Linked DNA regions of Homo sapiens: region 1 is linked to region 2. The links come from fine-mapping of genetic effects on gene expression. A gene starts in region 2. The other region holds a variant in brackets. All regions are shown on one strand. Distances are between the middles of the regions. Region 1 overlaps NQO1-DT (NQO1 divergent transcript). Region 2 holds the start of EXOSC6 (exosome component 6).

Evidence for each region.
Region 1: its variant is fine-mapped to the expression of EXOSC6 in esophagus muscle (GTEx, PIP 0.96).

The regions. Positions count from the first base shown.
Region 1 is chr16:69,736,969-69,739,871 of GRCh38, reverse strand. The region is part of intron 1 of NQO1-DT (NQO1 divergent transcript); the gene reads right to left. Among named protein-coding and RNA genes, the nearest start is that of NQO1-DT, 12 kb to the right of the region's middle. The variant C/T (reference allele first, on the strand shown) is at 1,182.
Region 2 is chr16:70,250,713-70,253,615 of GRCh38, reverse strand. EXOSC6 (exosome component 6) reads left to right here and starts at 1,676. Exons shown (of 1, transcript NM_058219.3): 1 at 1,676-2,903. The coding sequence starts at 1,716. The coding sequence ends at 2,534. It overlaps AARS1 (alanyl-tRNA synthetase 1), which reads left to right. Exons shown (of 21, transcript NM_001605.3): 20 at 235-348; 21 at 710-1,318. The coding sequence ends at 895. RefSeq lists enhancers at 135-635, 1,270-1,459, 1,500-1,549 and silencers at 1,930-2,019, 2,150-2,469.

The DNA.
Region 1 (2,903 bases), 510 kb after region 2:
GAGTTCGAGATTAACCTGAGCAACATGGAGAAACCCTGTATCTGCTAAAAATACAAAATTAGCCTGGCATGGTGGCAGGCACCTGTAATCCTAGCTACTTGGGAGGCTGAGGCAGGAGCATGGCTTGAACCCGGGAGGCGGAGATTGTGGTGAGCTGAGATCGTGCCATTGCACTTCAGCCTGGGCAACAAGAGCAAGACTCCCGTCTCAAAAAAAAAAAAAAAAAGTGATGGGCCAGTTGCTGTGGTTCACGCCTATGATCCCAACACTTTGGGAGGCCAAAGTGGGAGGATTGCTCAAGTTCAGGAACTTGAGACCAGCTTGGGCAACATAGTGAGACCCCATCTCTAAAAAATATACAAAAATTAACATGTATGGTGATACACACCTACAGTCCCAGCTACTTGGGAGGCTGAGGTGGGAGGATTGCTTAAGCCCGAGAGGGTGAGGTTGCAATGAGTTGAGATCATGCCACTGCACTCCAGCCTGGGTGACGGAGAGAGACCGTGTCTCAAAAGAAGAAAAACTTACTGCCTGGACGCAGTGATCCAGACCAGTAATCCCAACGTTTTGAGAGGCTGAAGCCCGCAGATCACTTTAGCTCAGGAGTCCAATACCAGCCTGGCCAACATAGTGAAACCCTGCAAACAAATAAAAATCAGTGAAACAAATTAGTTGCACATGGTGCTGCCTGTAGTCCCAGCTACCTGGGAGGCTGAGGTAGGAGGATCACTTGGGCTCGGGAGGAGGAGAGGGTTGCAGCTGAGATCCTGCCACCAAACTCCAGCCTAGGTGACAGAGCAAGACCCTGCCTGTCACAAAAAAAAAAAAAAAAAAGGCATGGCACAGTGGCTTACACCTGTAATCCTAGCACTTTGGGAGGCCAAGGTGGGCGGATCACTTGAGGTCAGGAGTTTGAGACCAGCCTGGCCAACATGGCGAAACCCCATCTCTACTAAAAATACAAAAAAAAAGCCAGGCATGGTGGCGCACACCTGTAGTCCTAGCTACATGGTTGGCCAACATGGCGAAACCCTGTCTCTACTAAAAATACAAAAATTGGCTGGGTGTGGTGGTGGGCACCTGTAATCCCAGCTACTCGTGAGGCTGAGGCAGGAGAATTGCTTGAACCTGGGAGGCGGAGGTTGCAGTGAGCCGAGATGGTGCCAATGCACTCTAGC[C/T]TGGGCAACACAGCGAGACTCTTACATACATACATACATACATACATACATACATACATAACATAACATACATACATAGACATAAAAATAAGAATAACCAAATAACCAGGCCGGGCATGGTGGCTCACACCTGTAATCTCAGCACTTTAGGAGGCCAAGGCCAGTGGATAACTTGAGGTCAGGAGTTCGAAAGCAGCCTGGCCAACATACTGAAATCCCGTCTGTACTAAAAATACAAAAATTAGCTGGGCCTGGTGGTATGTGCCTGTAATCCCAGCTAGCCTCCGTCAAAAAAAAACACGACTCAATTTGCTACCTTGAATCAAGTCTCTTCAGAACAAATGAATGTCCTTTTTGAGAGAAATGAGCATTTTGTTGTTGTTTTTGTTTTGTTTTTTTGAGATGGAGTCTTGCTCTGTCACCCAGGCTGGAGTGCAGTGGCACAATCTCGGCTCACTGCAACCTCCATCTCCCAGGTTCAAGTGATTCTCCTGCCTCAGCCTCCCGAGTAGCTGGGATTACAGGCGCATACCGCCACATGTGGCTAATATTTGTATTTTTAGTAAAGATGGGGTTTTACCATGTTGGCCAGGCTGGTCTTAAACTCCTCACCTCAGGTGATCCACCTGCCTCGGCCTCCCAAAGTGCTGGGATTACAGGAGTGAGTCACTGTGCCTGGCAGAAATTTCAGTTTAATCAGAGTGTTCTAAGCCCAGTAAAGGATGGCCTAATTCCGGCAATACATAACTTAAATTAGAGCAGGACACACCAAAACACAGGAAGCCCAACACAATGGTGTGAGTGCTGTGTAATAGCCATAGTGGTGGCGGGTAGGAGGACAGGAAGGGATGGATGGGGTTTCTAGTAGAAGAATCTCTTCTACCCTAATACCAAGAACATTTTCTCCCCCAGAAATACTTGGCTGGAATCCACAGGAACCACTGAGGATAACCCAGGTCCCCAGACAGGCTCAACAATGGCTCTGAGCTAATATACAAAGTCCATCATCCGCAGCACAGAGAAAAGGAAGGGGTCTTTGGGGACTTCTCCTTGTGCAGAAAAGCAGCCACCCAGGTGGACACCATGCATTAGCAGGTGGCTCATGAGGATGCTTGTGTTCTTTCATCAGAAGGAGAGGGCTCCTGAGAATTCTCCAACTCCCGGCTTTTAATTTCTAGATAATGAAGACAACAAAGCTTCCTATAGCTCTGAGGTCCTCGCCTGCTCCAACGTGGGCGACAGAGTGAGACTCTGTCTTAAAAAAAAAAAAAAAAAAAAAAAAAACAGGGCAGGGAGCAGGTGCGGTGGCTCATGCTTGTCATCCCAGCAGTTTCGGAGGCTGAGGCGGACGGATCACTTGAGGTCAGGAATTCCAGACCAGCCTGGCCAACAGGATAAAACCCCATCTGAACTAAAAATACAAAAAATTAGCTGGGCGTGGTAGCACATGCCTGTAATCCCAGCTACTTGGGAGGCTGAGGCAGGAGAATCACTTCAACCCAGGAGGCAGAGGCTGCAGTGAGCTGAGATTGCACCACTGTACTCCAGCCTTAACAACAGAAAGAGACTCCATCTCAAAAAAAAAAGGAGAAGATTGATAAGCTAGAACAGACGGAATACAAAGACCTCAGGTGCTTACGGAGAGAAAAAGCAGATCACATCCAAATGGTCAGGAAGCAAGTGATAAATTCTCCCTGAAAACTGGAGAACATAGATCAATGC
Region 2 (2,903 bases):
CCCACGGTCTGGGATTGAGATTGGGAGGAGCAGCAGCTCCCTGCATGTGGGAGGCATACCTGGGCCAGGGTAGGGGCAGGGCCCGGCGCTGGGGTCCTCCCCACAGGCCCTGGGCACAGCCCCTGCTCTGGGAAGGGGTAGGGGTGGGTGGCAGGCCTTCTGAGGGCTGCAAATGCTCACACTAGTGAGGGTCCCTGCTCCAGCACCGTGGCCTGAGCCAGGTCCTCCCCACAGGCCCTGAATGAAGCCTTGAAGCTCTTCAAGATGCACTCCCCTCAGACTTCTGCCATGCTCTTCACGGTGGACAATGAGGCTGGCAAGATCACGTGCCTGTGTCAAGTTCCCCAGGTCAGCACCACCTCGCACCAGTGGGAAGTGTTAGGTCTTAAGGTTGTTGGCTGAGGCCTGTGTGTGTACAGCCTGCATTCGAAACAGCCTTTCTGCCCACCGGTTGGTTACCTTTGCCAGTACCCCTTACCCAGGCCTTCTTATTGGTGAAGACATCTGGTTGATACCTGGCTTTGCCACTCTGTCCTGTCCTGGCAGTGGCCATGGCCGCCCCCTGTACCAGCCGTAAAGTCTGTCTCGGCCTCCAGCAGTATCACCCAGGGCAAGGAGTGGGTGATGGCTCCTCCATCCTTTCTTTCCCTGCATTCCTCCCTCAATCCCATCTTCTGTGCTGACTCCCCCTTCCCTTCCTGTCTTCTAGAATGCAGCCAATCGGGGCTTAAAAGCCAGCGAGTGGGTGCAGCAGGTGTCAGGCTTGATGGACGGTAAAGGTGGTGGCAAGGATGTGTCTGCACAGGCCACAGGCAAGAACGTTGGCTGCCTGCAGGAGGCGCTGCAGCTGGCCACTTCCTTCGCCCAGCTGCGCCTCGGGGATGTAAAGAACTGAGTGGGGAAGGAGGAGGCTCCCACTGGATCCATCCGTCCAGCCAAGAGCTCTTCATCTGCTACAAGAACATTTGAATCTTGGGACCTTTAAAGAGCCCCTCCTAACCCAGCAGTAACTGGAACACACTTGGGAGCAGTCCTATGTCTCAGTGCCCCTTAAATTTCTGCCCTGAGCCCTCCACGTCAGTGCCATCGGTCTAGAACCACTAACCCCGCATTGCTGTTGATCGTCACGCTCGCATCTATAGATAACGGCTCTCCAGACCTGAGCTTTCCGCGTCAGCAAGTAGGAATCGTTTTTGCTGCAGAGAATAAAAGGACCACGTGCAATACTTAATGCCGCATGATCTCTATCCCTCTTCCCAATAGGGGCTGGCTCTTTTGACAGCCTTTGGCGTCTGTAGAATAAATGCTGTGGCTCCTGCTGGCTGCTGTGGTGTTCACCTAGTCCAGCCCCAGAACCCAAAATTTTGGGAACAGCCCCTAGGGCTGCCTCAAACGTCTGTGGAGGTGGAGGCCAAATAGGTGGGGTGACTTGGAGCAAGGCGTTCATAATTCAGTAGATGAGGGGTGGAGGTAGTTGGAAGCAGAGAAGCCTTTCTTGGAGCTGCTCTCCCCCCTCCCTTCCAGCAAGATGGATGGATCCGGCTACCCTGCACAACTGGGACCGGGCCGTTCTCCCTCCGGGCCTCCAGGGGCGCTGTAGTGCCTCCCGCCGCTCTCTCGACAGCCCATGCGCAGCCGCGCGTCTTTAAACAACGGAAGAACCAGTGGATGCGGCAGGGCGTTGGGCGGAAGGGGTTCGCACGCCAAGAACCGCCATGCCTGGGGATCACCGCCGCATCCGCGGCCCTGAAGAATCGCAGCCGCCGCAGCTGTACGCGGCCGACGAGGAGGAGGCGCCCGGCACCCGCGACCCAACGCGGCTACGGCCCGTGTACGCGCGCGCCGGGCTGCTGAGCCAGGCCAAGGGCTCGGCCTACCTGGAGGCGGGAGGCACCAAGGTGCTGTGTGCCGTGTCGGGCCCGCGACAGGCCGAGGGCGGCGAGCGCGGCGGCGGCCCGGCCGGAGCAGGCGGCGAGGCCCCGGCCGCGCTGCGCGGTCGCCTGCTCTGCGACTTCCGCCGCGCACCCTTCGCGGGCCGCCGGCGCCGCGCTCCCCCGGGCGGCTGCGAGGAGCGTGAGCTGGCGCTGGCGCTGCAGGAGGCGCTGGAGCCGGCTGTGCGCCTGGGCCGCTACCCGCGCGCGCAGCTCGAGGTGTCGGCGCTGCTGCTGGAGGACGGTGGCTCGGCCCTGGCCGCCGCGCTCACCGCCGCCGCGCTCGCCCTGGCCGACGCGGGCGTGGAGATGTACGACCTGGTGGTGGGCTGCGGCCTCAGCCTCGCGCCGGGGCCCGCGCCCACCTGGCTCCTGGACCCCACGCGGCTCGAGGAAGAGCGCGCCGCCGCCGGCCTCACCGTGGCGCTCATGCCTGTGCTGAATCAGGTGGCCGGGCTGCTGGGCAGCGGCGAGGGCGGCCTGACAGAGAGCTGGGCGGAGGCCGTACGCCTGGGCCTCGAGGGCTGCCAGCGCCTCTACCCCGTGCTGCAGCAGAGCCTGGTGCGGGCCGCCCGCCGCAGGGGCGCCGCCGCCCAGCCCTGAACCAGAAGCCTGAGCAACTACGGACGCAAGCCGAGGACCGTGCTGCCGCCGTCCACGAAAAGACCCGCGCCATCGGCCTCCAGTTTGCGTCGAGAATTCCTGGAAGGGCCCTGATATGACTGTGGTTGGACTGACCTGACTGCCAGATGGTGGGACTTGGTCTGGAGCAGGGACTACTTGGAATGATAAAGGCAAAACTCAACAGCCCCTGGAGCTGCGCTTGTGGTGGAGCTGGACCCTGAAATTACCTGGACCTTTTTTTTAGAGACAGGGTTTCTTTCTGCAGTCTCAAACTCCTAGCCTTGATTGATCCTCCTGCCTTGGCCTCCCAAAGTGCTGGGACTACAGGTGCATGCAACCACACCTGGC